Linked DNA regions of Homo sapiens. The protein of the gene in region 3 interacts with the protein of the main gene of each other region in a biochemical or structural test. Each region holds a gene or a part of one and is shown on either strand. Other genes may lie near its edges.

What was found.
Region 1: the proteins of UBE2V2 (region 3) and RFFL form a complex in vitro, tested with the Homo sapiens proteins (one study listed by BioGRID).
Region 2: the proteins of UBE2V2 (region 3) and RC3H1 form a complex in vitro, tested with the Homo sapiens proteins (one study listed by BioGRID).

What each region holds. Positions count from the first base shown.
Region 1 is NC_000017.11:35,053,708-35,060,733, forward strand, and holds part of RFFL (E3 ubiquitin-protein ligase rififylin), read right to left. Parts: intron 788-7,026; exon of another isoform or gene 681-787; intron 1-680.
Region 2 is NC_000001.11:174,019,358-174,026,276, forward strand, and holds the start of RC3H1 (roquin-1), read right to left. Parts: upstream 3,001-6,919; 5' UTR 2,739-3,000; intron 1-2,738. UniProt on the Homo sapiens protein: Post-transcriptional repressor of mRNAs containing a conserved stem loop motif, called constitutive decay element (CDE), which is often located in the 3'-UTR, as in HMGXB3, ICOS, IER3, NFKBID, NFKBIZ, PPP1R10, TNF, TNFRSF4 and in many more mRNAs.
Region 3 is NC_000008.11:48,004,222-48,011,452, reverse strand, and holds the start of UBE2V2 (ubiquitin-conjugating enzyme E2 variant 2), read right to left. Parts: upstream 3,023-7,231; 5' UTR 2,999-3,022; coding exon 2,983-2,998; intron 1-2,982. UniProt on the Homo sapiens protein: Has no ubiquitin ligase activity on its own. The UBE2V2/UBE2N heterodimer catalyzes the synthesis of non-canonical poly-ubiquitin chains that are linked through 'Lys-63'. This type of poly-ubiquitination does not lead to protein degradation by the proteasome.

The sequences.
Region 1 (7,026 bases), on a different chromosome or scaffold from region 3:
TTATGGGAAACAATAATCTTTTTTGTAACTATATTCTCCCCCACAAACCATTCTATCTTATAAATCCATGCTCACCAAGCAAGCTTGATATTATTAAATTTGATTGCCAGATCTCTTGATATTGAAAAGCAATTATCCTAACAAATTCCAGAATCCCGTTAACGGAAAAGGAATCCTTCATTCTAAAATAATAAATTGGCATTCCATTCTGAGCTCAATCACTCAAGTCTGAATACAATCCTGTCTTCAAGACTAATTATTTCCAGGTTCTCCACAAAATACATTTTGTGACCCAAGACTAGACTGACGACACAGTGACCAAAATCCTGAGGGGTCATCCTGAGAAGCTAGATTGGCACCACCCTGGCCAGCCCTACCTAATGCCACCCTCGCTCTACAAGCTAACTTGTATAATACTTTCCCATACTTCTCCACCTTCCACCCCTGTCATACCCTTCAATCAAGCACTATAGTGAAGCACTTTACCTTCCTCTCTAACCGTGTAGAGGTCAAATACACCATCTTATCCATTTTTGCATTTTCCTCCATATCCCAATATAACTTGCATCAAAAGAACCACAATAAATATTTACTGTAAAACACAATTTTGCTTAACAACACAAGCCATTGCATTCCACCATTCCCACAAGCTGAGGCCTCTTTCTGATTTATTTTTCCCACATCAGATGGGTAATGCACTGACTTTGTAGTAACAAGGCTTGATGGAGGCACATCTCATACATGTGCATGAAAATCCAATCATTACACTTATGAACAACAAAATAATCCCCTTTCTAATTTACTGAACTCTTACTCTATCTTTTATCTTCCCCTCCCTCCCCCACCTCTCCATTCCTAAACTGCCAGATTACTATAGAAAAATCAGAAGACTTTATTTAACTGGGTTGCTAACAAATTCATACAGCTGGGGTAAGCCATCACTGGGCTCTAAAAACCTTTCATTCCTCTCTAGCTGATGTCCTGATAGGGCTTTCCAAAGAGCAGTGTCATGCAAGGTTTAGGAGCATGGGGCCTGGGTCAGACAGAACTCATAGTCTTCTTTCTGTGTGACCTGTTAAGGTGATTAATTCCCTAAGCGTCATTTTTCTCATCTGTAAAATGAAGTACCTAAAAGAGGTCATTCACACAAATCCTTAACACTAACACAGTGACAGGCTTAGAGTAGGTGCTTAGTAAACACCGATCCAACAGCTTTTTTTTTTTTTTTGAGATTGAGTCTTGCTTTGTTGCCCAGGCTGGAGTGCAGTGGCGCGATTTTGGCTCACTGCAAGCTCCACCTCCCGGGTTCACGCCATTCTCCTGCCTCAGCCTCCTGAGTAGCTGGGACTACGGGTGCCCACCAGCACGCCTGGCCAATTTTTTTGTATTTTTAGTAGACACGGGGTTTCACCGTGTTAGCCAAGATGGTCTCGATCTCCTGACCTCGTGATCCACTTGCCTCGGCCTCCCAAAGTGCTGGGATTACAGGCGTGAGCCACAGCGCCCGGCCAATGGTCACCAATGATCTTCTGATGGATAAATGTGTGATTCTTTCCTATGTCCTCAACCTTCATGACTCCCTGAAGCCCCATGCACCCAAAACCTACCCAAATTCTTCATTATGAAGCTGTCTTCAGAGGGTTACCAAGAACTATGGACAGAAATATAACTTTAATTAAGCATTAGGCCAGGTGCGATGGCTCACCTGTAATCCCAGCACTTTGGGAGGCCAAGGTGGGCGGATCACCTGAGGTCAGGAGTTTGAGACCAGCCTGGCCAAAACGGTGAAAACCCATCTCTACTAAAAATACAAAATTAGCCAGGTGTGGTGGCACACACCTGTAGTCTAGCTACTCAGGAGGCTGAGGCAGGAGAATCACTTGAACCCAGGAGGCAGAGGTTGCAGTGAGCCGAGATCATGCCATTGCACTCCAGCCTGGGCCACAAGAGCAAAACTCCATCTCAAAAAAAAACAAACAAACAAACAAACAAAAAAAAAACATTAATCAGGCTGGATTTTGACACATTTCCTTGTAACTGAAAGTCACACAGCGCTAGATACTGACCATTTGCATCCCTATTGTTTCTAAAGATAGTATCTCTGACATTAGAAGCATAAGGCTTTTTTTTTAAGAATTGCTTGAGATATTTTTCAGATCCCAAATTCTGGTAAAACAGCTGATGCCAACCAGTTTGAAGACCCTCAGAGAGAAATAAAATCAGCATAATACAGTTTTTTCATCTCCGGGTCCCATTACTTCACCTTTCTCTCTCTGACCACCCAACAATCTCCACATTCCAGCCCACTCCAAAATCCTTAAAAACCCTAGCTCCAAACTCCTCAGGAGGACGGATTTGCAGTTCCCTCTCATCTCCTCATTCTGCAGCCCAACAAATAAACCCCGCCCCCAGGTCTTGGGTATTGACTTGCCACACATCAGACAGCACACTTACTCTGGATACACTTGAATTCCCCTTACAGACTCCTTCTCCCACACTGGCTCCCACTGCAAGCGTGGTAGCCTGACTTACCTTTGACATCAATGACCACTCTTGCTCCCTTATTTTCCTTCCCTGGTTCCTTCTTTTGCCCCCTACATAGGCCCTAGGGTTCTGTACTCCATACTCTTCCTTCTTCCTTTCCTTCTCTAGTGAATTTTACTTCTACTTTTTTTTTTTTTTTTTTTTGAGACAAAGTTTTGCTCTGTTGCCCAGGCTGGAATGCAGTGGCATGATCTCGGCTCACCACAACCTCCGCCTCCTGGGTTCAAATGATTCTCCTGCCTCAGCCTTCTGAGTAGCTGGGATTACAGGCATGCACCACCACGCCCGGCTAATTTTGTATTTTTAGTAGAGACGGGATTTCTCCATGTTGGTCAGGCTGGTCTCAAACTCCTGACCTCAGGTGATCTGCCCACTTCAGCCTCCCAAAGTGCTGGGATTACAGGCGTGAGCCACCATGCCCAGCCTGGTTCTACTTTTTAAATGCATCCTGCAACTATCCCGTTCTATGTCCACTGCCATATCCTGCCCTATCTGCGATGATCCTTCTCAAGAAGGGAGACAAACACTTCCTTACTGGTCCCTTCTTTGTGACTCTCTATTCTCTACAGAGTAGCCAGGGTAACCTTTTATTTAGAAAAAGAATCTTTGCTTGTCACTTTCTGTTTTAAGCCTTCAATGGTGTCCCACCACCCTTTTTTTTTTTCTTTTTCTTTTTTTTTGAGACAGAGTTTTCACTTTTGTTACCCAGGCTGGAGTACAGTGGTGCAACCTCGGCTCACTGCAACATCCACCTCCCGGGTTCCAACAATTCTCCTGCCTCAGCCTCCCGAGTAGCACGGATTACAGGCATAAGCCACCATGCCTGGCTAAAATTTTTTATATTTTTAGTAGAGATGGGGTTTCACCACGTTGACCAGGCTGGTCTCAAACTCCTGACCTCAGGTGATCCACCTGCCTCAGCCTCCCAAAGTGCTAGGATTACAGGTGTGAGCCACCATGCCCAGCCCCACCACACTTTTGAGTGAAGGCTAGACTCACTATCTAGCCCACAAAGTCCCCATGTGATGTGGGCTCTGCTTGCCTTTTCCACTTTACCTCATGCAGCTCTCCCACTTCACTCACCTTGCTCTGTCCTTCGGTCACCTTCCTTCAATTCCTCAAAAATTATAAATTATTTATTGCCCCAGGGCCTACAAACTTGGGTTCCTTTTCTGGCTGAAACATTCTCCCTAGCTCTTTTCACAAGACTGGCTCCTTCTCAGACTGCAGTTCACCTTCCCTATAACATAGCTGTCTGGCACACAGTAGGAGCTTACCAGGTATTTGTGAAAGGAACAGATTTCACATTCTCCAGTCAGGTAACTCCCAAAAGTGAATATCTGGAATCAATCTCACCCTTCAGATCAGTGCTTCATTTCTAAATGCCTGCTAAATTTCCATACCTCAAACTTAGCATACTAGATATAAAACCAACTCTTCCATTTTCCCAAACCAGTTTCTCCAGTTTTCTGAAATTACATGAGCAATATGATCCAGTTTCCACTTCAGAACAATAAATTTCCCATTCATTTGCTCTACCTGTCCAAAATTCCAATCACCTTTAAAGCTAAATTCAAATATCACTTCATTCAATCATGCATTCAATCAACCACTTATTCATTCAACAAGTACTTACTGAGTGCCTTTTATGAGGCAGACACTATGTTAGATACTCGAAAGCAAAGCAGATGTATTTTTGTCTATTATACATCAAACAATCATATAAATATTGAATTATGAACTAAAAAAAAAGTAATGAAGGAAAAATGCCAGAAAACATGAGAAAAAAATGAGAGGCATCAAGAAACACTGTTCTGATGATGGGCTGATTTAATGAAATATAATTTACACTAGGCAGACTGGAAAGAAGAGCATGCTAGATAGGATTCAATCAAGTCCTAGAAGCAGGAGAGATGAGATCTATCTCAATGTACATATCATCTTGCCTTACATATTATATCTATCTATCCCCCCCCACCATACTCATTTTACTGATAGTTACCTGAAAGAAAGGACATAGAGTGTCTCTTATGTGCCAACACAACACCCCCAGGAGACACTGAGTCACTGGTCTGGTACCTAGGAGCTTATGCTTGTAAAAAGCTCCCAGATGACTCTATATGCAGCCAAATTTGTAAATCATATGCCCAAACTACCCATTTAATAAACATATATTGATTATTCTTTCATGAAAAATCTCTAAGGTCAGTGTGGTAAATTGTATCTAAAATTGGTGGTAGGCCAGGTGCGGTGGCTCACGCCTGTAATCCCAGCACTTTGGGAGGCCAAGGCGGGCAGATCATAAGGTCAGGAGTTCAAGACCAGCCTGACCAACATGGTGAAACCCCGTATCTACTAAAAATACAAAAATTAGCCAGGCGTGGTGGCAAGCAACTGTAATCCCAGCTACTCAGGAGGCTGAGGCAAGAGAATCACTTGAACCCGGGAGGCAAAGGTTGCAGTGAGCCGAGATTGCGCCACTGCACTCCAGCCTGGGTGACAGAGCGAGACTCTGTTTCAAAAAATAAAGTTGGTAGTAATAATCCCAATCACATTGCATGCCCTTTTGCAATGTGATTTTTACCCTCTATCCTTTAGAGGTGAAGTCAATGTCCCCTCCTCTTGTATCTGGGCTATAATTGTGACTTACTCTGACAAAAAGAATGGGGCAAAAGTGATGATGTATGACTGCCAGGCCTAGGTCTTATGAGATCCTGCAGCTTCCATTATGGCCCAGCCACCATGTAAAAGAAGCTCGAGCTAGAATTTTTTTTTTTTTTTTTTTTTGAGACGGTCTCGCTCTGTCACCCAGGTTGGAGTGCAATGGCACAATCTTGGCTCACTGCAACCTCCGCCTCCCATGTTCAAGCAATTCTCCTGCCTCGGCCTCCCAAGTAGGTGGGATTACAGGTGCCCACCACCATACCCAGCTAATTTTTGTATTTTTAGTAGAGACGGGGTTTCACCATGTTGGTCAGGCTGGTCTGGAACTCCCGACCTCAGGTGATCCACTCACCTCGGCCTCCCAAAGTGCTGAGATTACAGGCATGAGCCACTGCGCTCGGCCACTCGATATAGGTTTATAAGTGATGAGAGACCAAGAAAGAGAACTCACAGAGAACCAAGATATCCCAGCCAACAGCTAGCTCCAAAGGTACAGACATGTGCAGCCTTCTTGGATCCTCCAGCTCAATCAGCATCATATGGGACAAAAAAAAATATGTCCTCCTTTCCTGAATTACTAACCCACAAAATCATAGGCAATAAAATGGTTGTCATGTTATGCCACCAAAAGTCTTCGGGTAATTTGTCACACAATAGACAACTGAAACAGTCAGAAATTCAACACTCTCTTGGGCAGTCATTCAAACATTTCCCCACTTTGATGATCAAAAAATTCTTTCTCGTATTCATCAAAATTGCTCCTCCTTCAATTTAAGACCATTTCCTCTTAAATCTTTGAAGTTCATGAAGAATAATTAATAAAAATCCCCCTGGCAAAACTATTCTTGTATTTGAAGATGATAATGAAGTTATCTCTTAGCTTTTCTTTCTCTAGGCTAAAATCTTTCCCCCCTTTTTAAAACTTATAATGATAAGACCTGTTTTTCAACCTTTTAATCATTTTAATTATCCTCTCAAGTATGAGAGACCCAAAATTGAACACCATATGCCAATATCTAACAGAGATTATTTCCTAGCTCTAATGGTTCAGCTTTTTATAATGGAATTTCTCATAGTCCCAAATATGGCATTTTAGCACTCCAAAAGTTGTGAAGTGATCTAAAAAGTTAATTACTTACTATAACTGTAAAAGGTTTTCTGCCCTTAACACTCAGCTTACTCCATTTTGGGATGACCGCTTTCACTCACCAGCCTGGTTTGATACTCCACCAGGGCAGCAGGTTTTCACAACTTCCAGATATTTGAAGTATAAAAGAAAAACCTGAGAGGTTGGAGTACGCACACCATTAATTTCAATCAAGGTCTCTAACCACAACCAGGGCCTTCCCATAGGTCAGGCAGGTTCAGAGTACCTCCTCCTCCTACCTTGATGATAAAGTGGCCTTGTAAAAGGCAAGACCGTTAGCACTTGCCTATCGAGCAAAGGCACCATTTCTGTGGAACCTGATAGAGTATATTTAACTACTATATTAAGAGACAAACCAGCTGCTTAATGCAGTGTAAGAACCATGTTTTCTCTCTGAGTCTTACCTAAATGTATATATGCTTTGGTATCAGACTAGCTTTATAATCACTGGTAAAATAGGGATAATAAATAAAGCCTACCCAACGCAAATAAAACCATATGAGGGAAATAATTTTGTAAAACACCATAAAAATGTCGTGATATTGCGGGACTAGATCTCAGCAAACCCTTTAAATCTTCAAATTAACTTTGAATGATTACTTGATGGTGGCAGGTAACACATACAAAATAAGCAGCCATGGGCTCATGTTCATCAAATAGGAATGAAAAAC
Region 2 (6,919 bases), on a different chromosome or scaffold from region 3:
ACACATGTGGTAGTGGCAAAGAATCTAATTTGTGTCACAAGATCTGAGTCTGAGTAAGCTCTTTTACCTATTAATTATGTGATCTTTTTGCTGGTTACATAGCTACTCTTAGCTTCACATTCTTCATATGAAAAAATGAGGACAACAGAACTAATACTGCAGCATAATGAGGAAGCTTAAATATTTTTATTCATTCAACAAATATGTTCTGAAAGGCGTTGTGTACAAATTACCCTTTTTTATTTCTTCAAATAAATCAAGCATATATTAACTTTTAATATTACCAAGAAAATATAAATCTAATTCTTAAGCTCTGGTTCCAAAACTTCTTAGAAGTAAATTTTTATTACCTGAGAAAATGTGAACTTAAGTAATAAGTATTGATACTGAAGAAGGGACAGTTGAGTTTGTGTCAAAACTTAAAACTGTTTTGACACAAAATAAATAAAAACAATTCCCTAAATTTTTTTCCTATTGAACAGAAATACGGACCCAGACTAAGCCCATAAATTGCTGGGTCAATAACCAATCTGAAATACAAAACCTTACCACTTAAAAATATTTATTTTCAGGAAAATGATATTAAATATGAGGTAAATCTGCCCTTGACATAACACGGTGAGATTGTTTTCATAACACAGCACATGAACCACTTAAAACTTACAACCTATAAATTACTACAATTGTTCTAATAGGTTTAGGGCCATACATAAATTTAAGTATCATTATAACACAGACTTTACTTGGAATCTGTGCTGACCTAACAAAATTAGCACAGAAAAAAAAAAAAAATCACAGATTTGAGCACCTGAAAAACGGTGTCCTTTCTGAAATATCTGCAAAAAAGTCACAACATCAGGAGCCATAGAAAGTTGTTATTTCTCCATCATTCAAAAAATCAAAACATCTCCAACATTATTTATGCTAAGCATAAAATGAAGGTCAGTATTGATATTCATTCACTATACTTCAAATCCTAAACAAGAAAATTCAACCTTTATGTTTATTCAATTGCTAATCTATTCAGTGTCAATTGTTGTGGAAGAACTAAGAACTAGACTAGTGCTGCTTATAATGTTTTTAATTAGAACAGACTTGGACCAATTCTACTTAGAAATTTACCCTTAGAAGAGGTGAAAGATATTAACTGGCATCTTTTCAGCACAGGTCAGTGCTGAAAAGAACACAACCTATAACCCTTAGGCCTTGCAGTTGAATGTTAACAAGTGAAAAGCAATCTCCTTGGATGTATCCAAGCGATTTTAATATAAATTTCTGCATACCTAGGTAGAAAGTACTTTAGAAATAAATCTACCTTTTCCCTCACTTGTAAGAAAATGTGGTAGAAGCCTTGAAAAATTAAGTTTAAGGCTGAGCGAGGTGGCTCACGCCTGTAATCCAAGCACTTTGGGAGGCGGAGGAGGGCAGATGACTTGAGGTCAGGAGTTCCAGACCAGCCTGGCCAACATGGTGAAACCCCGTCTCTACTAAAAATACAAAAATCAGCCGGGCATGGTGGCGGGCGCCTGTAATCCCAGCTACTCCGGATGGTGAGGCAGGAGAATCGCTTGAATCCGGGAGGTGGAGGCTGTAGTGAGCCGAGATTGTGCCACTGCAATCCAGCCTGGGTGACAGAGCAAGACTCCGTCGCAAAACAAAACAAAAACGAAATCAAATTTCAAACTCAGAGAAAAGACTGGTCTTGAACAATTTCAGGAAAAATTACTGAAACACGAGACAAGGCACAAGAAGCTCTATGGCCGGAGATGAACCACCTGTCTCCTTTCGAAGTGCTTCCTGAGGTCCACTTTATGCTAGTTAATGTTGCTTCTTATACTGCATGTTAGTAATTCAAAACGCCTAGCTGGAATAAAAGTCCTCTTTAAACATTACAGTTTGTCTCCGCGTTGCCAGTGTTTGTTTCCAGTTTCATAGGCTATTCTGGTATGTCAAGAGTTGTGTTATTACTGTTCCAAAAGAGCCCTTGTTTCAATCCACTCTCACCTGGGATGCGGGCATAACTGATGTTTATAGAACTGATACTTAGAGATGTTTAGAGAGGCGCATCCCTTACCACTCCATCCTTTACCGATAACCACATTTTATATGTTTTTGTTGCATTTAAGTTTTTTGTTTTTTTTTTTTAAAGACACCTGCACACACACAATTTTCCCATCGCCAGCAGGGAGAAGACTACCAGGCTAGATCTCCAGGGACTTCAGGGAAACAGACACCGTGAAATCCACTTGGCCAAAGAAGGGGAGCGCTTCAGGGGCTGGGGGAGGAAGCAGCCCTGAGGTGCTGGGAGGCCGAGGCGGCGCCTGTTTACAGACGCCTTCGCCCTCCCCCACCCCCACAGACTAGGGGTCCAAAAAGCAGTTCCCGTGCGCATTCCCCGCCTGGCCCAGGCCCTGGGAGTACCACAGGAGCCAGGTAGCCCTTTCGCCCCCTCCCTCTCGTCCGAGCCTCCCTTCGTCCTCCTCTCGGCCTACCTACCCCGACAGGCCCTACAGGCGGCATGCAGAGGCCTGAGGCCTAAAGGACGCCGGCCACTGACAAGCCCCAGAACAGCCGGCGGGGGCCCTGAGGAGCCTGGGGCCGGCCGGGCTGCCGCTGCCGCGGAGGAGCAGAGGGCGGGCGAGGACAAACCCTTCCCGACCACAGCTGCCTATTGTTCCCGACTGAGGCCCCGGCCGCGGCAGCCCCGCTCCCCAAGTCGCCGCCCGCCGCTCGCTCACCGCGCTGGTCCGAGCAGCAGCTCCTCTCAGCTCCGAGTCCCCGCGGCCGTCGCCACCGCCGCGGCAGCCGCCGCCGCCGCCGAGGCCACCGTTGACTCTGATTCTGTCCCAGGCCGCCGGGCCACGGCTGCCGCCGCCACCGCCAGCACCGCCTCCGGCCTCCCACCTGCTGCTGCTGAGGCTGCTCCTGCAGCAGGGGCCATCTTGTTGCTCGGCCTCCTCTTCCTCCTCCTCGTCCTCCGCCGCCCAGTCGCTCGTTGTCCTCGTCCCCTTCCTCTTCCTCAGGCTCCGGCCCGCCCCGGAGACTGGGGCGGAGACGAGGGCGAGGATCCTCCCTCAGGAGGCGGGGCGGGCGGAGGGGAGGGGCGGGCGCGGGAGCAAAGCTCTGAGTCACCGGCCACCAACGCCCGGAGGGAGACCGGCGACGCTCTCCGCCGCGACCGAAAGTCTCACACGCCCTGAGCAGATGAACCGGTCCCTCGGTCCGGTCTGCCCTCCCGCACCGGCGCCTTTGGGCTCAGCGGGCCAGTGGCCAGATGGCGAGAGTAAATTGGGGGAATTTCTTTCGTTTCCATCGAACCCCACACTACGTCTACTCTTTCGGCTTTCTCAGCCGTTGTCCCCCAACTCTTGTTTCTTTTTCACGTCTTGTCCCCCACCCCATTTTTCTTCTTCCATATTATCCAGGTTCTGGATCTCATCAGCTTTGTCCTCGTCACCCCTCTGGGAGTTCAGCCTCCTAAGGCTGTGAAACAGCCCAAAAGGCCCGGACACGCTACTCCAAAACGTCTCTCCTGGGCTGTGTGAACAATAAGAGCTATTTGGGGACGACAGGAAAAGATATGGCCCATAGAAGGGCTCCTGAAATCTAACCTTGCGACTCTTTAAAAGTTTCTTGTCCCTTGTGGAAAAGGTGCCGTTTTGGTTTTGGGGAATGGGAGGTCCCTTCAGACAATTCATTTTAGCCAAACCCTCGCTTTTGAGAAGGGGAAGAAATGGGATTATTGTAACACCATACAGTACTAATTTCAAAATAAATCATCTAGAATAGAGGAGAGAGAGAGTCCCCAAATAAACAACCATTTAATACCTCTACTCGGCGCTATCACCTTTTTTGCTTCAGGATTTGACCAAGAGAGCAGAGATTATGTTTTTCTGTCCTTTCTTCACTGTTTACATCACAGTACCCCAAGAGAAGCACTTCTGCCTTTAACTTGATACATTGGAATCGCTATCACAGATAGTGTTTTTGTATTATTTTTAAGAAATATCACACACCTTCCTAAACTCTTGGCAGAGAAGAATTCTTTTTAGTTGTTAGCACCCTCCTGCTACTGAGATCTCAGCTTCTGTTTAGAAGACCTATTGTTGTCTTTCCACTGATTGGAATTTGCTGCCTCTGAACTGGGTTTAATCTGTAATCGTCTTTTCAGCCTACTAAATAGTAACCCCAGTCCTACAGAGAGTGAATTTCTAGCTACCACAGGGGGATTTAGGTTAGCATGTGCCAATCTAAAGGGATCTCTTAAAGCCTTTCCCTTCTCAGACCAGGCCTCTGTACCCTGCTAGGAAAAACAGATTAATCTGCTCCTCCTGCTTTTCCTCCTCCTCCCTTCTTCTCACTCCTAGGGAACCTTCCACAACAGAAGGTTTTAGCGACTGTTGCTAGGCAAACATGCCAACTTCCTTGTTTAGGTGAAGCGAGTAACTCAACTTCCATTGCAAGTAACCTAGATAATGTAATTTCTTTGAACTATTAATAGTTATACCACAGTTGGTAAGGCTCCTTAAAGGTTCCCTTAAGCAGTATGATTTTTACGTTGTTTATTTTTATCTCGTCAATATTTCAATTAAAAATACGTTAAAGGACAGATAGATGCAGTGGCTCACGCCTGTAATCCCAACATTTTAGGAGGCTGAGGGGGGCGGATCACCTGAGGTCCGGAGCCTGACCAACGTGGAGAAACCCCATCTCTACTAAAAATACAAAAATTAGCCAGGTGTGGTGGCGTGCACCTATAGTCCTAGCTACTCGGGAGGCTGAGGCAGGAGAATCACTTGAACCTGGGAGGTGGAGGTTGTAGTGAGCCGAGATCACGCCATTGCACTCCAGTCTGGGCAAAAAGAGCTAAACTCTGTCTCAAAAAAAAAAAAAAAAAAAAAAAAAAAGTTAAAAATGGCGGCGCTTCCCCAAACCCAAATTCATTTTAGTGATATAAAGATGCATTTGACAGAAAAAGAAGAGCAGCTTTGAAGAAAACACTTATGCTTACAATAAAAAATAAAAAACTAATCTGTGAGAAGTCATATGTTTTCAACTCCCCAGTCAGACTAGAAGTGTAAGATACAGGGGATAAGGCCGGGAGCGGTGGCTCACGCTTGTAATCCCAGCACTTTGGGAGGCCGAGGCAGGCAGATCACGAGGTCAGGAGATGCAGACTATTCTGGCCAACATGGTGAAACCCCGTCTCTACCAAAAATACAAAAAGCCCGGCGTGGTGGCGCGCGCCTATAGTCCCAGCTACTCAGGAGACAGAGGCAGGAGAATCACTTGAACCTGAGAGGCAGAGGCTGCAGTGAGCCAAGATTGTACCACTGCACTCCAGCCTGGATGACAGCAAGACTCGGTCTTGGCAGAGCATTGTGGCCCACGCCTGTAATCCCAGCACTTTGGGAGGCTGAGGAGGGTGGCTCTCCTAAGGTCAGGAGTTCAAGACCAGCTTGGCCAACATGGTGAAACCCCGTCTCTACTAAAAATACAAAAAAATTAGCTGGGCGTGGTGGCAGGCACCTGTAATCCCATCTACTAGGGAGGCTGAGGCAGGAGAATCCTTTGAACCTGGGAGGCGGAGGTTGCAGTGAGCCGAGATCGTGCCATTGCACTCCAGCCTGGGCAACAAGAATGAAACTCCGTCTCAAAAAAAACACCAAAAATTAGCTGGGCATGGTGGTGCACGCTTGTAATCCCAGCTACTTGGGAGGCTGAGACAGGAGAATCGCTTGAACCTGGTAGGTGGAGGTTACAGTGAGCCGAGATCACGCCACTGCACTCCAGCCTGGCGACAGAGCAAGACTCCATCTCAAAAAAGAAAAAAAGAAAAAAAAAAGATACAGAGGATAATTTATCTCTTGAAATTGAGTCTATTTAAAATAAAGATAATATGAATATTCAGCAAGGGGGAAAAAAGATATTCTGGGTTTTATTCCTAAATTAACAATTATTTGAAAATTTAGCTAGGGAAATAAGCTTTTTTTAAAAATTTTATTTAAAATGTTTTTACTCTTGTTAGAGTATTGAGATTTGTTGTGAATTAATACAAATAAGATTAAATGAGGCTGAGCATGGCAGCTCATGCCTGTAATCCTAGCATTTTAGGAGGCTGAGGCAGGAGGATTGCTTGAGGCCAAGAGTTCAAGACCACCTGGCCAACATAGAAGACCTTGTCTCCATTTAATTAAAAAAAAATTTTTATAAAAGATTAATGACGCCAGGCAAGGTGGCTCACATCTGTAATCCCAGAACTTTGGGAGGCCGAGGCAGGCGGATCACCTGAGGCCAGGAGTTCGAGCCCAGCCTGGCCAACATGGCAAAGCCCCATCTCTACTAAAAATACAAAAATTGGCTGGATATGGTGGTACATGCCTGTAATCTCAGCTACTCAGGAGGCTGAGGCAGGAGAATTGCTTGAACCCGGGAGACGGAGGTTGCAGTGAGCCGAGATCACGCCACTGCACTCCAGCCTGGGTGACAGAGCAAGACTCTGTCTCAAAAAAAAAAAGATTAATGAGACACTATGTTGAAATTTAAATTATATAGATTTAAACTTCAGAACTCTTAAAATTTGTTTTAATCCACTGAAACTCATATTAATACACTGAAATAGTGTTTGAGAAGTGTCTTGAGCTTAGATTATATGTTAATTAAGAGTATATTACTTAAGATAAACAGCTTATATGTTTCATAGCCATTTGTGCTCAGAAATCACTATTTTGCTCACACCTGTAATCTCAGCACTTTGGGAGGCTGAGGTGGGCGGATCGCTTTGAGCTCAGTTGTTCCAGACCAGCCTGAGCAACACGGCAAAACCCCATCTCTACAAAAAGTACAAAAATTACCTGGGTATTGGTGGCTCATGCCTGTAGTCCCAGCTACTCAGCTACTCAGAAGGTTGAGGTGGAAA
Region 3 (7,231 bases):
TAATCCCAGAACTTTGGGAGGCCGGAGCAGATGGATTACCTGAGGTTAGCAGTTTGAGACCAGCCTGGCCAACATGGTGAAACCCCATCTCTACTAGAAAAAATATATATACAATAAATTAGCTGGGCGTGGTGGTGCATGCCTGTAAACCCAGCTACTCAGAATGCTGAGGCAGGAGAATTGCTTAAACCCAGGAGGAAGAGGCTGCAGTCAGCCGAGATCGCACCATTGCACTCCAGCCTGAGCAACAAGGCGAGACTCCGTTTCAAACAAACACGTGCATTACATCGATGTAGCTCATCTAATTTTAAATTTTAAGCTGTATCATGCTGCTTTCACAAATACACAGGTACTATTTACTTCCCATGTTACCAAAAAGCAAACAAAAGTATAGCTAATAGTAAAATTAAAACTAATTAATAGGCTGGGCACTGTGGCTCACACCTGTAATCCCAGCACTTTGGGAGGCCAAGGTGGGCGGATTGCCTGGGGTCAGGAGTTTGAGACCAGTCTGGACAACATGATGAAAACCTGTCCCTACTAAAAAAAAAAAAAAAAATACAAAAAAAATATATATATACAAAAAAATTTGCTGGGCGTGGTGGCATGCACCTGTAATCCCAGCTACTCAAGAGGCTGAGGCAGAGGAATTGCTTGAACCAGGGAGGTGGAAGTTGCAGTGAGCCGAGATCATGCCCTTGCACTCCAGCCTGGGCAAAGAAGCGAGAGACTCAGTCTCAAAAAAAAAAAAAAACAAACAAACCCAGGCGCAGTGGCTCACACCTGTAATCCCAGCAATTTGGGAGGCCGGATCACGAGGTCAAGAGATCAAGACCATCCTGGCCAATATGGTGAAACCCCGTCTCTACTAAATATACAAAAAATTAGCTGGGCATGGTGGCACGCGCCTGTTGTCCCAGCTACTCAGGAGACTGAGGCAGGAGAATCGCTTGAGCCCGGGAGGCGGAGGTTGCAGTGAGCCGAGATCGCGCCACTGCACTCCAGCCTGGGTGACAGAGCAAGACTGCGTCTCAAAAAAAAAAAAAAAAAAAACTAGTAGATGGGAACGGTGGCTCACCCCTGTAATCCAGCACTTTGGGAGGCTGAGGCGGGTGGATCACCTGAGGTGAGGAGGGTGCAGTGAGCCAAGATCATGCCACTGCACTCCAGCCTGGGCAATGCAGCGAGACTCCATCTCAAAAAAAAAAAAAAAATACAGACTCCCTATGTACAATATGCTAATAATTTATCAGTAATCTTTATAATTTATATTCAACTTCCAAAACAACTAAAAGTGATTAACAAAAAGTATTTGCCATTAATATCATCTAACCTTTGGTCTTTTCAAAATATTAACATACACTCATGTATAGTGTTATGAAAAAATTGTGTTTAATAATGCAACCCACAAAAGGAAAATGAAAAGTATTAAATTAAAATGCATTATTTTATTACTAAATTTTCAAAAATCTATAAGAGGTCCTAAGCACAACTGTTATAAAGATATGGCCCCGTTAACGAGCACAGATTAGATTTCAGCAAGCACAGTAAAGTCATAACACTAAAATTCCACTTTTAAAACAATCCTTGCCTTACTAGCTAGCTGACCCAAGTATGTATACTACCCCAACACTAGAACTGCTAAAGATCTTAAAACCTATGACACCTATATGTAATAAAGATGTAAAAGACACCACTTAATTAAAATGTATGCAGAATGTATCCTGAGGTATTACTCTAAAGCAACAATTACAACATATATTCAAAGCCTTCCATTTCAGTACATATAGATTTGAAAATTCATTTTATTATGCAATGATGGCATAAACTATTAAATCACACTGCTCTATACTCTTGTTTCAACGAAGACTAGGAAAAGGCAGATCAGGCCGAGCGCGGTGGCTCACACCTGTAATTCCAGCACTCTGGGAGGCCGAAGTGGGCGGATCACCTGAGGTCAGGAGTTCGAGACCAGTCTGGCCAACATGACAAAACCCCGTCTCTACTAAAAATACAAAAATTAGCCGGGCCTGGTGGCACGCGCCTGTAATCCCAGCTACTTGGGAGGCTGAGGCAGGAGAATCACTTGAACCTGGGAGGTGGAGGTTGCAGTGAGCCGAGATCACACCACTGCATTCCAACTGGGCAACAGGGTGAGCCTCTGACTCAAAAAAAAAAAAAAAAAGAAAAGAAAAGAAAAAGGCAGATCACACGGGTTAACATTTTTAAATGTAAACTAAAGCTTAACGTTTTTAACATTTCTGAAATGGTCTAATGTCTAAAACCTCAACGTTAATACTTGTGTGCTCACAGGAAACCAAACATTGTATTCAGTAGGAAAGAGGAGTTGAACAGCTTATCTAAGAAACCACTTGTTCTTCAATTAGCTTTCATCTTGCTCTGGTCTTTTATTTTGTTTGCACTGCAGTTTTCCTCATAAATAATAAAAAGATCACACGTATTCAGTCAGGTAAGAAAGATCCTCTCGCTCTTATTTTAAGGAGCAATCGTCCTCTACTCCCCAACCCATGTCAAGGAGAGTCCAAAGGAATGGGACCCCTACTCTGATCCAGGACACCTCTTGGCCTGACCCATCTTCGGTGCCGGTTGGCCTGACCCATCTTCGGTGCCGGAGGTTGACACCCGCCCACCTTGGGCCTCCTCGCCTCCCTCCCGTAGAGCCTTCAGCCTACAACTCGGACCCGCGCCCGCCGGAACCTACGGGGGCGCCCGCGCGGGAGCCACCCCGCCCCCAGCCCGCCGGCGCGCGGCCGACGCGCGAGCACGACCCGCCAACCCGACGGCCGCCGGGGCCTCGGCGCCGGTCCCACCCGGTCCCAGGCTACGCTCTGCGGAGAGCGCGGCATTCGAGACAGCGCACTCGGGCTTCTCCCGCACGGTCAGCGCTCGGGCGCCAGCAGCAGACGGAGGGGCAGAGCCGGGTCGGAGCGGAAAATCACGCAGCCCGGCCCGGGAACCGACCTGTGGAGACCGCCATCTTCTCCTGCAGCCCGACGCAGCCGCCCGCACGCACGCACGAACCGTCGCGCGTCACTTCCGGGAGCGCGCCGCCCTGCACGCGTCACAGCGGACTCCGCCCCCGGCGGGCGCGGGGCGACCCGAGGGACAGCGCGCACGTGGGCCGAGGGGTCGCGGGGCCTCGCTGCTGTTTCCGCAATTCCCTTGTGAATCCCGCTCTCAAAATGAAACGCTAAAGAATAAGTTCATGAGGGCCGGGCGCGGTGGCTCACGTCTGTAATCCCAGCACTTTGGGAGGCCGAGGCGATCGGATCACCCGAGGTCAGGAGTTCGAAACCAGCCTGGCCAACATGGCGAAACCCCGTCTCTACTAAAAATACAAAAATTAGCCGGACGTGGTGGCGCGCGCCTGTAATCCCAGCTATTTGGGAGGCTGAGGCACGAGAATCGTTTGAACCGGGGAGGCGGAGGGGCAATGAGCCGCGATTGCGCCACTGCACTCCAGCCTGGACAACAGAGCGAGACTCCGCCTCAAAAAAATAAATAAAAATAAGTGGGCATTGACAGATTTGCGTTGATAAACGATTCAAAAGAGTTGGACAATAAATTTGAACAGCTAGGGATGCTGAGGTGGGAGGGTCACGTGAGCCCAAGAGGTGAGGCTGCAGTGAGCAGAAATCGCTGCACTCCAGCCTGGGCAACAGAGGGAGACTCCATTTCAAAAAAAAAAAAGAAAGAAAGAAAAAGGAAAGTAATACAGGCTGGGCGCCGAAGCTCACTTCTGTAATCCTAACACTTTGGGAGGCTGAGGCAGGAGGATGGCTTGAACCCAAGACTTTGAGACCAGCTTGGACAACATAGTGATACCTAGTCTCTACATAAAACTGAAAAAAAAAAAAAAAAAAGATTTTTCACATCCCTTGTAGGTTGTATTCCTAGGTATTTTTATTCTCTTTGTAGCAATTGTGAATGGGAGTTCACTCATGATTTGGCTCTCTGTTTGTCTGTTATTAGTGTATAGGAATGCTTGTGATTTTTGCACATTGATTTTGTATCCTGAGACTTTGCTGAAGTTGCTTGTCAGCTTAAGAAGATTTGGGGCTGAGACTATGGGGTTTTCTAAATATACAATCATGTCATCTGCAAACAGAGACAATTTGACTTCCTCTTTTCCTAATTGAATACCCTTTATTTCTTTCTCTTGCCTGATTGCCCTGGCCAGAACTTCCAATACTATGTTGAATAGGAGTGGTGAGAGAGGGCATCTTTGTCTTGTGCCGGCTTTCAAAGGGAATGCTTTTGGCCGGGCATGGATCCCAGCACTTTGGGAGGCGGAGGCGGGCGGATCACGAGGTCAGAAGATCAAGACCATCTTGGCTAACACAGTGAAACCCTGTCTCTACTAAAAAAAAAAAAATACAAAAAATTAGCCAGGCATGGTGGCAGGCCCCTGTAGTCCCAGCTACTCGGGAGGCTGAGGCAGGAGAATGGCGTGAACCCGGGAGTTGGAGCTTGCAGTGAACCGAGATGGCGACACTGCACTCCACCCCAGCCTAGGGGACAGAGCGAGACTCCATCTCAAAATAAAAAAAAATAAAAAATAAAAAGAATCCTTCATTCCAGTTTTCGCCCATTCAGTATGATATTGGCTGTGGGTTTGTCGTAAATAGCTCTTATTATTTTGAGATACATTCCATCAATGCCTAGTTTATTGAGAGTTTTTAGCATGAAGGGCTGTTGAATTTTGTCGAAGCCTTTTCTGCATCTATTGAGATAATCATGTGGTTTTTGTCATTGGTTCTGTTTATGTGATGGATTACATTTATTGATTTGCATATGTTGAAGCAGCCTTGCATCCCAGGGATGAAGCCGACTTGATCTTGGTGGATAAGCTTTTTTGATGTGCTGCTGGATTCGGTTTGCCAGTATTTTATTGAGTATTTTCGCATCAATGTTCATCAGGGGTATTGAGCCCACGTAGCCAAGGCAATCGTAAGCAAAAGGAACAAAGCTGGAGGCATCACACTACCTACCTGACTTCAAACTATACTGCGAGGCTACAGTAAAAAAAATTGCCTAGTACTGGTACCAAAACAGATATATAGATCAATGGAACAGAACAGAGGCCTCAGAAATAACTCCACATATCTACAACCATCTGATCTTTGACAAACCTGACAAAAACAAGCAATGGGGAAAGGATTCCTTATTTAATAAATGGTGTTGGGAAAACTGGGTAGCCATATGCAGAAAGCTGGAACTGGATCCCTTCCTTACACCTTATACAAAAATTAACTCAAGATGGATTAAAGACTTAAACGTAAGACCTAAAACCATAAAAACCCTAGAAGAAAACCTAGGCAATACCATTCAGGATGTAGGCATGGGCAAAGACTTCATGACTAAAACACCAAAAGCAATGGCAACAAAAGCCAAAATTGACAAATGGAATCTGATTAAACTAAAGAGCTTCTGCACAGCAAAAGAAACTACCATGAGAGTGAACAGGCAACCTATAGAATGGGAGAAAATTTTTGCAATCTATCCATCTGACAAAGGGCCAATATATAGAATCTACAAAGAACTTAAACAGATTTACAAGAAAAAAATAAGTCCATCAAAAAGTGGGCAAAGGATATGAACAGACACTTCTCAAATGAAGACATTTATGCAGCCAACAAACATGAAAAAAAGCTCATCATCACTGGTCATTAGGGAAATGCAAATCAAAACCACAATGAGCTACCATCTCACACCAGGTAGAATGGTGATCATTAAAAAGTCAGGAAACAACAGATGCTGGAGAGGATGTGGAGAAATAGGAATGCTTTTACACTGTTGGTGGGAGTATAAATTAGTTCAACCATTGTGGAAGACAGTGTGGCGATTCCTCAAGGATCTAGAACTAGAAATACCATTTGACCCAGCAATCCCATTACTGGGTATATACCCAAAGCATTATAAATCATTCTACTATAAAGACACATGCACATGTATATTTATTGTGGCACTGTTCACAATAGCAAAGACTTGGAACCAACCCAAATGGCCATCAGTGATAGACTGCATAAAGAAAATGTGGCAAATATACACCATGGAATACTATGCAGCCATAAATTAGGATGAGTTCATGTCCTTTGCAGGAACATGGATGATGCTGGAAACCGTCATTCTCAGCAAACTATCACAAGAACAGAAAACCAAACACCTCATGTTCTCACTTATAAGTGGGAGTTGAACAGTGAGAACACATGGACACAGGGAGGGGAACATCACACACTGGGGCCTGTCAGGGGTTGGGGGCTAGGGGAGGGATAGCATTAGGAGAAATACGTAATGTAGATGACAGGTTGATGGGTGTAGCAAACCACCATGGCACGTGTATACCTCTGTAACAAACCTGCATGTTCTGCCCCTGTTCCCCAGAATTTAAATTAAAAAAAAAAAAAAAGGAGAAAAAGTAGTTAAGAGAAAAAAAAAAAAGCTGGCATTCTGGTTCGTGCCTGTAGCCTCAACTACTCAGGAGGATGAGATGGGAGGATCACTTGAGCCAGGAGGTTAAGGCTTCAGTGAGTTATGATGGCACCACTGTAATACAGCCTGGGCAACAGAATGAGACACTGTCTTAAAAAAAAAAATGCAGGGGGCCAGGTGCGGTGGCTCACGCCTGTAATCCCAACACTTCAGGAGGCCAAGGCAGGTGGATCACAAGGTCGGGAATTCAATACCAGCCTGGCCAAAATGGTGAAACCCTCCCTCTACTAAAAATAGAAAAATTAGCCAGGTATGGTGGCGGCCACCTGTAATCCCAGCTACTTGGGAGGCTGAGGCAGAGAATTGCTTGAACCCAAGAGGCGGAGGTTGCAGTGAGCTGAGATCACACCACTGCACTCCAGCCTGGATGACAAGAGCGAGACTCTGCCTCAAAAAAAAAACAAAAAAACAAAACAAAAAAAAAAAACAGAAGAGGAAATAAAGAAGAATCATAATATACTATCCTTATCTACTCTCAAGCCACTGTAACTTGACAAGCCAAAATGAGACTGTTTTTCTCACAAAGGGACCTGACACAATAACCTAACTGAAATTTCTTACCAGTGCAGAGAAAAACTCTAATATTATCATCAAATTATTAAACTTTCCCCAAGTTTGTCTGCTGAGTTCTAGTGACCTCAGCATTATATACTTAGCAACAGCCTCTAGCTGACCTATCCTAAATATCAATATTTCTTAAACACCACATTTATTATGT